4 separate regions of the Homo sapiens genome follow, and all the other regions are linked to region 2. Evidence: fine-mapped expression QTL. A gene starts in region 2. Each other region holds a variant in brackets. All regions are shown on one strand. Distances are from middle to middle. Region 1 has its middle 20 kb from the start of SLC66A1. Region 2 holds the start of CAPZB (capping actin protein of muscle Z-line subunit beta). Region 3 overlaps CAPZB (capping actin protein of muscle Z-line subunit beta). Region 4 overlaps CAPZB (capping actin protein of muscle Z-line subunit beta).

Region 1 (2,729 bases), 150 kb before region 2:
TTCTCCTGCCTCAACCTCCCAAGTAGCTGGGATTACAGGCGCCTGCCGCCACGCTCAGCTAATTTTTGTATTTTTAGTAGAGACGGGGTTTCACCATGTTGGCCAGGCTGGTCTCGAACTCCTTACCTCAGGTGATCTGCTTGCCTCAGCCTCTCAAAGTGCTGGGATTACAGGTGTGCCACCGCGCCCGGCCAAGATGGGAGTATTTTTATGGCCATTTTACAGATGGGAGAACAGTCTCAGCACAATTGAGCAGCTTGCCCAGCTAGGAGCAGCAGCAACACGAGACCCTCCAGCTTTGGGAGCCACCCCACACCTGGCCAACGCTGGCGGCCCGTGTCCCCTTCCTCCATCCTTGCTGGGGGCCCATGGCTTGTGGCAGTTCAGCTTCACCCTCAGGAGTGGCCCGAACCCTGCTGGACCCAGGCTCCCTTCTCACCATCCTGAATAGCGACTTTGCTGAGCCTCTGGCCCTGCCGAGATTTCAGGATAAGTTACCCCCAGGCCCGAAGCCCCAGCTTGCCCTGGCCTGTGCCTGCCTCAGGTGCCAGCTAGATGTCTCGCTCCACCTGGGTCTGGGACCTGGCTCCACACCAGTTACCTGGGACCAGTAGGTGCCCTTCCAGCCTGAAGATCTGGGGGCACAGTATAGCCACATGAGCCCCAAGTGTGGTCCTGAACTGGGGCCGGGTGGGGAAGAGTGAGATGGGATAACATAGCCCCTGCTTGGAGGCCCTTCTCTGATGGGGTGACATAATCCCTTCCTCCTGGGAAACACCAGCTTTTGGGGTGATAGCACTTTCAGGCAGGAGCTATGGTTCCTTCCTCAGGAGGCCTCCAATCTGATGGGGAAGACATGGCCCCTCCCCCTGGGGAGTGCCCTGTGTGATGGAGGCGATACAGCCCCTACCTTCAGAGAGCACCTGGCCTGCAGCTCATCCAAACCTGAGTCTCCTCTCCCTTGGAGGCCTCATTCCAGCGCCCCAAGGAGGATTCAAACTGTTGGGGCTGGAAGAACTTGGTGGCCTGGGTCCCTGGAGCCCTGTTGAAGGAGCTGGTGACATTCTGATGCTGGAGGCAGGTGACGGGGAGCACAGACTTTGTGTCCTGCACACTGAGCTCCAAGTGTGCCCCAGCCACTGAGCCTTGTGACTTGAGCAGATGTCCGAAGCCGTTTCTTCATCCCATGAGACCAACAACACTGTCTGCCTCAGAACATAGCCGTGATCAAGATGAGCACGGAGGCTCGTGTCCCAGCACCTGGCACACAGTAAGTGCCTGGTAAATAAACAATGGCTATATTTGCTTGTCATCAGGGGGCTTACCAATGCCTGGAACCTCCCCCAGGTTCCTCACAAAGAGAAGGGCCAAGGCCGGGTGCAGTGGTTCACGCCTGTATTCCCAGCATTTTGGGAGGCTGAGGCAGGAGGATCACTTGAGCCAAGGAGTTCAAGACCAACTTGGGCAACATAGCAAGACCCCATCTCTACAAAAATTTAAAAAATTACAATAAAGGCGAATCTCATCGATGGGATTCTGCCATACTGATGGGGCCGTGTTTGCTGATGGTGGGCAAACATGTTACCAAGTTAAACGCCTCCACAGGTGGCTTCCCTTTCTCCCTGGCTTACACCTCCTGCTCCTTCCTGCAGGTCATGGGATGGCAGGATGCTTGTCTCCAGGTGTGGCCTGAAGGGAAAAGTGTGGACAGTTTGGTGTGATCAAGGAAATGGAACCA[C/T]GCTTACCAGTTGCCCTTGTCCAGGAAGGGCTGGCTCCCTTAGGACGCCCACATGGAGCATGAGGTTGGGCCAGGCACCCCCAGAGGTCCCCGCCTTGGCAGGTTCTGTTTTACCTGTTGAACGAGACACTGTATGGGGAAGTGACATGCGCAGTGCCTGGCCCAGTGCTGTGCACACACGCTGCTTCGCTTCCTCAGGTTCCGGGGATGGGATGGGACAGAAAAGCTGGTTGCTTAGCTGGTGGCGTTCTCCAGCAAAGCAGAAGGGATGGTCCTGGCAGCCCTGTGCCGAGCACTGGACCCCGCGCCCTCCCTGGCTCTCTCAGCCCCAAGGTCCCATTAGTTATCAAACCTGGTTTTTTGTTTTTGTTTTGAGACAGAGTCACTCCGTCACCCAGGCTGGAGTGCAGTGGTACGATCTTGGCTTACTGCAGCCTCCACCTCCTGGGCTCAAGTGATCCTCCCACTTGAGTGCCACCACGCCCAGCTAGTTTTTGTATTTTTGGTAGAGATGGGGTTTCGCCATGTTGCCCAGCAGGCTGTTCTCAAACTCCTAAGCTCAAGTGATCCTCCCACCTCAGCCTCCCAAATTTGCTGGGATTCCAGGGTTTTGAAGCCACAGCCAAGACGACATGGCCTTCCATTCCTGAAGCCGAGGAAGGGGAGAAAGCCACAACCTTCACCACTCTCCACCCTTTCTGTCTGTGTGACTTGGCTTTCATCGGAGCTGAATGACGGGACCCCAGAGGTGCCGGGTGACAGCCAGGTGCAGAGCCTCAACTACCCCAGATGGTAAAGCTTTAAACTGATCCACTGGCCAGGTGAGGCGACTCATGCCTGGAATCCCAACACTTTGGGAGGCTGAGGCAGGTGGATTGCGTAAGCTGAGTTCAAGACCAGCCTGGGCAACGTGGTGGTGTGCACCTGTAGACCTAGCTACCTGGGAGGTTAAGGTGGGAGGATTGCTTGGGCCCTGGAGGTCAAGGCTGCA
Region 2 (2,500 bases):
GGGCGATTGTGCGTTCATCCTTGTCCTGTGGGCCACCCATCCTCGCCCCTCGGCTCCCACTCAGGCCCGGGCGCCGTGGACCCCGGCCTGCCCTGCAGAATGCTTCGCACGCACAGCACCCACGGCGGCAGCCTCGAGAAGGGCCCGCAGAGCAGCGCGCTGCCTTCTGGGCACACCGATGCCCGCCCTTCCCTCGCTGGCTCCTAGGCGGCCTCCCTAGAAGCGGCAACTGAGAAGGCACAGCACCGGGACCACCCCATCCCTGATGGAGAGCTCCCCTCGCTCCCCAAAGGCTGCAAAGAAGGCGCGCCCCAGGTACAGGGAAGGGGACCCTGGGTCGTGCACCAGGCAGGGGGCAGGACCCTGATGAGAGGCTCAGGGCGGGGACCGAGCGGGGCTGACGCAGGTTACGCTAGGAGTGGCGAAAAGTCCAGGGAAGGGGATCATGGTGGGGAGGGGGCAGTGAGGTCCAGACGGGGGCCATGGGCGGAGAAGAGGAGGTCCAGATTTAAGTTCACAGAGAGAAGAGGAGATTCAGGCTGAGGCCACGGAGAAGAGGGGAAGCAAACCTAGGCCGCTGCAGAAGGGGCTGACCGGGGTCCAGCCTGAGGCCATGGAGAAGGCAAAGGGGGAGGGACAGAGGGAGGCAGCGGCCTAGCCTGGGCCATGGCAGGGAGAAACGACGGCCTAGCCTGGGCCGGAGAGACGGGGGAAAGCAGACCTAGCCCTAGACCGGGGGAGGAAGGGGGCCCACGCCAGGGTCACCGAGGGGGTGCCTGGCTGGGGACACGGTTCGGGAGGGAGGGTCTAGCCTGGGCTATGGGAGAGACCAGCCTGAACACAGAGGTAGTGAGTGGGACTCCAGCTTGCGCCAAGGGCGGGGGCTGGGAGCGGGGGCAGGGTCACTGCCACCCAAGTCGTCCGCGCCGGCGGCACCCTCCTGGGCGGGGAGGGACCGGGTCCACCCAGGGTCCGGGACCCCGCCCCTCCCCCACCCCGGGAAGCCACCCGTCCCAGGCCAGGGATGGGCAGGGGGAGGGGGACGCGAGCTCCGGAGGGGCCCCCGGGCCGGGGAGGGGGCCGTGCGGCCTTTACCATGGTGGCGGCGGCGGCGGCGGTCCCGGTCCCGGCGTCAGTGGCTCTCCCCCCCGCAGCAGGGCCCGGCGCTTCCACTTCCCCGGGTGCCCAGGAGTGAACATCCGGGTCAGCACCCCCCTCCCCCCGCGCCGGGCCGCCGCCACCTTCCTTCCCCGCCCCGGCCCGGCCCGGGCCCGCCCCCCACGCCGCCAGCTCGCGGCCAATGAGCGCGCGGGGCTGCGGCGATCGCCAAGTATGGAGAGCGGCGCGAGAGGCGGGCGCCGACGGGGTGCGGGGGCGGGGCCTGCGAGGCGGGGCGGGGCGCGGCGCTGCGCGGCGCGGCTGCCGGGAGTCCCCGGCACGGGTTGCGGGCCGGGGCGGAAAGGTCTCCTGGCTGTCTGAGGTCCAGTCCCCGACTCTGGGCCTGCAGCAGCGAGTGGCGGCGAGGGAACCGCACCCCACAGTCCCCGCGGGCGGGGATGCGGAAGGCACCGCGGCTGGGAGGGGACCGGCCCTCCGCGCCCCACCCCGTGCACGCGCTCACTCCTGCGGCGCACCCGGAACTGCCGCCGAGCGCGGACCGGCCCGGCCCAGCCCAACCCAGCCCAACCCAGCACTGGGGGAGCGCGCCGGGAGCGGGGCAGGAGCCCAGCGCTGCCGCTCGCTACGGCAGGATCTGGAGCGCCGCGCTGCACCTGAGCCCGGGCACGAATTGAGGAGCCTCGGGCTGACGCCATTTATTCAGCACCTACTATGTGCCAGGCCTTGTTTAGGCACCGGAAGATAACAGATAAGACATAAAGATCCCTGCCGGTATAGCTGCAGACAGAATATCTGTGAGGATGACACAGGTAGAGATTAGAAAATTAAGTTCAACAGGTCGGCCGCGGTGGCTCACGCCTGTAATCCCAGCACTTTGGAAGGCCGAGGCGGGCCAAGGTCAAGAGATCGAGACCATCCTGGCCAACATGGTGAAACCCCGTTTCTACTAAAAATACAAAAATTAGCTGGGCGTGGTGGTTCGCTCCTATAGTCCCAGCTACTCGGGAGGCTGAGGCAGGAGAATCGTTTGAACCCGGGGGCAGAGGTTGCAGTGAGCCAAGATCGCGCCACTGCACCCCAGCCTGGCGACAGAGCAAGACTCTGTCTCAAAAGAAAAAAAATTAAGTTCAACAAATGCTAGCTGTTATGAGTACTGTTGAATGTGCTACAGAGAACCATTCCATTAGCCCAGAAGGGCTTCCTCGCTCCACAAAGTGACTCAAGTTTCTCTCTCCCAATCTCTCTCTCTCTCTCTCAATCAAATATTTGTTAAGCTTAGTCTAGGTAGCAGGAGAGATCTGGATTGCTAACAATATCTGCCTCCGTGGCCTGTTTGCTTTGGTTAAATCAAATTAGGCGATCTGTGAGGGGATGGTAAACT
Region 3 (2,738 bases), 55 kb before region 2:
TCCAGGTCATCAAGGTATCAACTTTTTAAAAAAATTCTAGAAGACAGCAATCTCTCTAAAATGTATTACCTGCTCTACATTTTTACACAATGCAAATGATCACAGGACAATGCAATGAACACAGCTAAACCATTTCTCATTAGCCTAAGGACAGTGTATGAGTAGCCACTCTTGGAACAGCACCCTGTGTCTGCTTTTTACATTTATCTGCTTCTTCTGCCAGGCTGTCAGCTACACTTCCTCAACTAATATGTTGCTTCTAATCTGCTATGAGGTTGAGAACCCAGAAAATTAGAAATCTGCTCTCATTTCAAACAAAAAAAAAAAAGAAACTCTGAGAGAAGGAATAAATCAGGTTGATAACTTGGGGTCCAGAGTCACAGCCCACAAATAGTTTGTAAGTACCTTGACACTATATGAAGATTACTTCTTCCTTTTCTTGAAGAAGTTCAAGACTCTAAAGGCAGAGATACGATATACTAATAATTCCTACTTTCCCATACAACCTGCATAAGCAAGTCACCACCTCATCCCTTGGAACCTCAGTCTTCTTTAAAACCTGGGTCCGACGGTACTGTCTACCTCACGGGCCACTGGGAATGAGGTACCACGTCTGGGCCATAAGGGCACCGCCCACAGAGCATCCTCCATAAAGGGTAGGAACTCTCCCAGAGAGTAAAGCACATGGCTTATCTGCCAGGACTTTTACATAACATTTTTTAGGTGCTAGAGGGTCCTTTCTGCCTGGATTTTTCCCTCACTTGACACAGGTTTTCCATTCAGGCTGCCAGGAGTCTCTAGAAAGGTAGGCGGAGTGTTATGTCAGTTTCCAAGTCATTAAGCACCCACAAAGGAGGGCAGGCTTGCACAGCACTCACTCCACACAACCGCCCCTGCCCTGAGTACGACGGAGCACATGGCTTCCCTAAAGCCACAAGGAGAAGAGAGGCAGGGACAGTGAGAGCTGAAGGAATTCCACATGTGTCCATGGAAGATCACCTTCCCTTTGTTTTCCTGCACTCTAGTAACTCCCTCATGCAGCTTGCTTTCTGAAGCCCTCTGCTCCATTTCCCCAGCCCAGGACAGCATCAAGAAATATTTCCACCATCTCATCTATTTGAACCTTCTCCCTATTTACTGGTGCTCCCAACCCCATCTGAGGCCATCGAAACCAGACAACTGTGGCAGCAC[T/G]AGCAGAGTCCCCAAACTACCCTGACACCCTCCCTGGCAAGGAAAATTTCCACGCGCCTCTCCCTGGCATATTTATTCCAGAGGAAAACTTAGCAACCTACACACTACACACAGGCTCTGTGTCAAACTCTACAACAGCCATCAGTTGATCTTTCCCTTACACATCCCTCCAGGAAGTGAAATATCCGAAATGAGTCATACTCAGGAGTCGGAGCTATACTTCCACTGTAGTTTTTTTGGATAACCAATTCACTGTTTACACTCCAAAACCTCTAATTGCTGAACACAGAACAGTTCCTTTGCAGAGATCAAAGCTTACCTGGTGAACCTGGCGAAATGACAAAAATTCTCCAAAAGGAGTTAGCCATCCAGAGTGCCAGAGGAGGGTGGCTGTACAAGCACATTTTAATTGGCAAAGCAGAGTCGCTGCCCAGCAAGGAAGAGTATGCAGGGGTTTATTCTGCTGCTCTTCTATTTCCCCTTTAAGGCATATATCTCTTACCCCTGCACCCACCAACTTTAGTCACTCCTAGCACACAGCTGGCGGCCGCCCACCCGCACCCGCACCTGCACCCGCACCTCAGAGAGCTTGCTGATCCCTGAGCCGTGCACTGAAGCTTCCAAGCAGCTCTACCTAAAGGCAAGCACTGCCTGCTTTTTACAACATATACAATGGGCTAACCTGATGCACAGAAAAACCCTGGGTCACATGACAACCAACAAACTCATTGCTCAGGATGGCTCTCCGCCACGTTTCTCAGGCACTGTGCTTGGCTCTGCTGGCCAACTGAGTGAGCTGGAGCATTTTCTCTTGGGTGTGCATACCCCTCCACCTGTCCAACTTTAAAACACAGAATCAACAGGGATGTTACACTAAAGGGGACCCTAGAAACCATATAAACGGTGGAAAATTGAGGCCTGGACTGACCCATAACAAATGAGACATCACATAATGGCAAATGAACCATGACCAGAAAACAAATCTCTTTAGTACACAGTTTAGCGCTTCTGCTTATACAGGTTGAACAGCCCTAACCCAAAAATCCAAATCCCAAACTTTTTGAGCGAAGACATGAGGCTCCAACGAGCATATCAGACTTTCGGATTAGGAATGGTCAACCAGTAAGTTCTGCAAATATTCAAAATCTGAAAAGAATCCAAAGAAGTCTCAAATCCAAAATGCTTCTGGTCCCAAGCATTTCGGATAAGAAACCTGTAGTTTAATCATCAGTCAAAATTTAAGAATAGAGTTGATTTTGGGCCGGGCACGGTGGCTCATGCCTGTAATCCCAGCACTTTGGGAGGCCAAGGTGGGTGGAGATCAGGAGATCAAGACCATCTGGCCGAGGTCAGCAGATCAAGACCATCCTGGCTAACACGGTGAAACCCCGTCTCTACTAAAAATACAAAAAATCAGCTGGGCGTGGTGGCGGGCGCCTGTAGTCCCAGCTACTTGGGAGGCTGAGGCAGGAGAATGGCGTGAACCCAGGAGGCGGAGCTTGCAGTGAGCCGAGATTGCACCACTGCACACCAGCCTGGGTGACAGA
Region 4 (2,738 bases), 130 kb before region 2:
AATGATGGAGGCAGGGCTAGGTGGAGGCAGCATCGCCTGGTCTGGCTGTGTTCTGGCTGGCTGGCAGGCCACGTGCCCAGGAGAGTGGCGCTCTGCCCCGGCCACTGGCCTACCACCAGCCGCCTACACTGGGGCACGAGTGGGCACAGGGCATAGCCTGATGTGCCCACGGAAGGGACCCCTGCGAGGTGCCAGCAAGCCAAAGCTGGCGGCCTTCTCCAGATGGGCCGTGGGAAACAGGAAGACAAGGGTGCGCCCGGGGCCACACACAGGGAAGGGCAGCTGCCGCTGCTGCCGGGGTGAGGCAGGCTGGGCCACAGGACCCTGGGAAAGCTGAGGACCCATGGGGCCTTGCTGAGGGTGCTGATGCTGGCTGGGATGGCTCTTGGGGCTAGGGCCTGGCACTGTGGGCCTGGGGAGACAGCTCCAAAACCAAGCAGCCTTCCTTCCTGACACACGTGGGGCAAGGGCATGTGAGCGTGGGTGACCTGGATGAGGCCAGGTTTCCAGAGGAAAAACCCAGGCCCAGGTTGCTGTAAGGACTGTGTAAGGAGGAACTCGAGTGAGGGGCTCTCATCTGACCCCCACCTCACATCTTGGTCGTCCAGCCCCTGACCACGCCACGCCAGAATGCCCCCCAGCCTGCCCCTCTTCCCCTGCCCTTCTGTTTCTGCCCTTGCCACCTCATGCCTCAGACTGACACTAGCTTCTTCACTGACCTCTCTGCTGCAGGGCTGTCCCCTCTGACCCTCCCAGGGCTGCCTGATCCAGGCCCTTGTCATCTCTCTCCTTGATGACTGTAACAGCTTCCCCCTGACCACCCATCCCCCAAGCCGACTGGCAGAGCCACCTTCTGAAAACACAGATCCAATCAGATCATTGGACTCCCTAGAAACCTCAAAGCCCTCCTGACAGCCTCTAGTAGTGAACACACCCCAGTGGCCAAGTGGCTTCCAGCAGGAGATCATCCTGAAAGACAAAGGCACACCTGCGGGAGGGGCCCAGAGGGCAGCGCTGCTCAGCACACACCTGGGGAGCCTTGACGCCGTGTGCGGCTCTGCAGGGTTGATCCTGCTTGCGGGGCCTGCTTGCTCCTGAGGCTACAGGTCCACTGCAGCTGCTCATGCCGGCTGCTGAGACAGAGTCCTGTCTACACTGAGCTGACTGCTCCATGCACTTCCATCTGACTATTTAGCAGTCACCGAATGGCAGGCACAGAGGA[C/T]GAATTAAGACCAAAACAGTTGTGGCATGGTAGAAAGTAGCATATTTTTTTCTCACCAGGCAAATCTGGGTTCACATCCCAGCTTTGCTTCTTACTGGTTAAATTATATGGGCAAATTATTTAAGTTTGAACTTCAGTTTCCTCACCTGTTAAATGAGAATAACTTGACCTTGGTTACAATCTAATCCAAGGGGACAGCCTGCAAACCATGCATGTTCATGCTCACTGAGCTGCTCACTTCTCCCAGAACCCTTCGCCTCCCATCCAAACAAGCACAGGCGTTTTTCCAAGGCTCCTCTGGGACCCGTAGCCAAGCTCTGCAACCCTCACTTCCCCTGTTTGCTCAGAAGCTGTGCATCATTAACTTAGATTTGTCTACCTCATTGCAATCCCTCCCCCTTCTGTAGTTACTTACATTGGAACCCAGCCCCAGCTTTAATGCACCTCAAATGAATGATGTGGTGATCGGCCGTTAGAATGATGGCAGAGCATTAATTTCCTCATTAAAGCCCCCAGAGCAAAAGGCAACGCAAACAAAGTCCGAAGCCCTGGCCAAGGTGTGCTGAGGACAGGCACTCATCAGGCCTGGGTTTAGCTTGGCAGGAGACACTGCTCACGGCAAGCCGGAACCAGACTCTGGCCATGGGCTGACAGCTCTGATTTAAACTATTAGGAGGGCTGAGGATTAAATATTTGTCCAGGTCACTGTAAACCGGGTGGAATTATCAACAGCCTGGAGTGGTAAGTGATACAGGAAGCAGTCTCTGGATACAGATTCAGGATTTTCCACCCACTCCCCAGGTGGCAGGATGTGGGAGAGTCAGGCTGCAGGGGAGCTGGCTGCCTGGGGGTTTGGCTGTTCCTCCCTAGCCAATGGCCCCTGGAAGATAGGAGTCCACTTCCACGCAAAAAGGCTAAGTGCCCCCTGTGTGCACTAGTGAGTAGTCCTGGGATGGGACTGTGACATCCCTGCCCAGAGGCCAAAAAGAGGACCGCAACATCCCTTCTGGCCTCCAGCCCCTCTGACACAGGAGAGGCAGTGGAGCTTCTATAGGTGGAGGGAGGGTCCCAGGTATGACGGCTGACATTCACCTTGCGCCACTATTTTTTCAATGCATGTAGATGTTGTTGTAACTAGTAGAATGCAAATTCACTTAAAAGATTTACTACACTGGGCCGGGTGTGGTGGCTTATGCCTGTAATCCCAACACTTTGGGAGACCGAGGTGGGCGGATCACTTGAGGTCAGGAGTTCAAGACCAGCCTGGCCAACATGGTGAAATCCCATCTCTACTAAAAATACAAAAAATGAGCTGGGCGTGGTGGTGCACGCTTGTAATCCCAGCTACTCGGGAGGCTGAGGCAGGAGAATCGCTTGAACCCGGGAGGCAGAGATTGCAGTGAACCGAGATCACACCACTGTACTCCAGCTTGGGTGACAGAGCGAGACTCCGTCTCAAAAAAAAAAAAAAAAAATTTTACTGCATCGATCCTTTCGGTCATATTTTTTCTATCCA

The links.
Region 1: its variant is fine-mapped to the expression of CAPZB in whole blood (INTERVAL, PIP 0.98).
Region 3: its variant is fine-mapped to the expression of CAPZB in whole blood (INTERVAL, PIP above 0.99).
Region 4: its variant is fine-mapped to the expression of CAPZB in lung (TOPMed, PIP 0.96).

What each region holds. Positions count from the first base shown.
Region 1 is chr1:19,331,117-19,333,845 of GRCh38, forward strand. It overlaps a transcript of SLC66A1 not described here. Among named protein-coding and RNA genes, the nearest start is that of SLC66A1, 20 kb to the left of the region's middle. The variant C/T (reference allele first, on the strand shown) is at 1,739.
Region 2 is chr1:19,484,341-19,486,840 of GRCh38, forward strand. CAPZB (capping actin protein of muscle Z-line subunit beta) reads right to left here and starts at 1,199. Exons shown (of 9, transcript NM_004930.5): 1 at 1,096-1,199. The coding sequence starts at 1,098. It also overlaps a transcript of LOC105376819 not described here. RefSeq lists enhancers at 1-492, 493-1,001 and silencers at 906-1,015, 1,046-1,775.
Region 3 is chr1:19,428,968-19,431,705 of GRCh38, forward strand. All of the region lies in intron 1 of CAPZB (capping actin protein of muscle Z-line subunit beta), which reads right to left. Among named protein-coding and RNA genes, the nearest start is that of CAPZB, 55 kb to the right of the region's middle. RefSeq lists an enhancer at 1,410-2,298. The variant T/G (reference allele first, on the strand shown) is at 1,192.
Region 4 is chr1:19,352,816-19,355,553 of GRCh38, forward strand. The region is part of intron 6 of CAPZB (capping actin protein of muscle Z-line subunit beta); the gene reads right to left. Among named protein-coding and RNA genes, the nearest start is that of SLC66A1, 42 kb to the left of the region's middle. RefSeq lists an enhancer at 428-1,112. The variant C/T (reference allele first, on the strand shown) is at 1,223.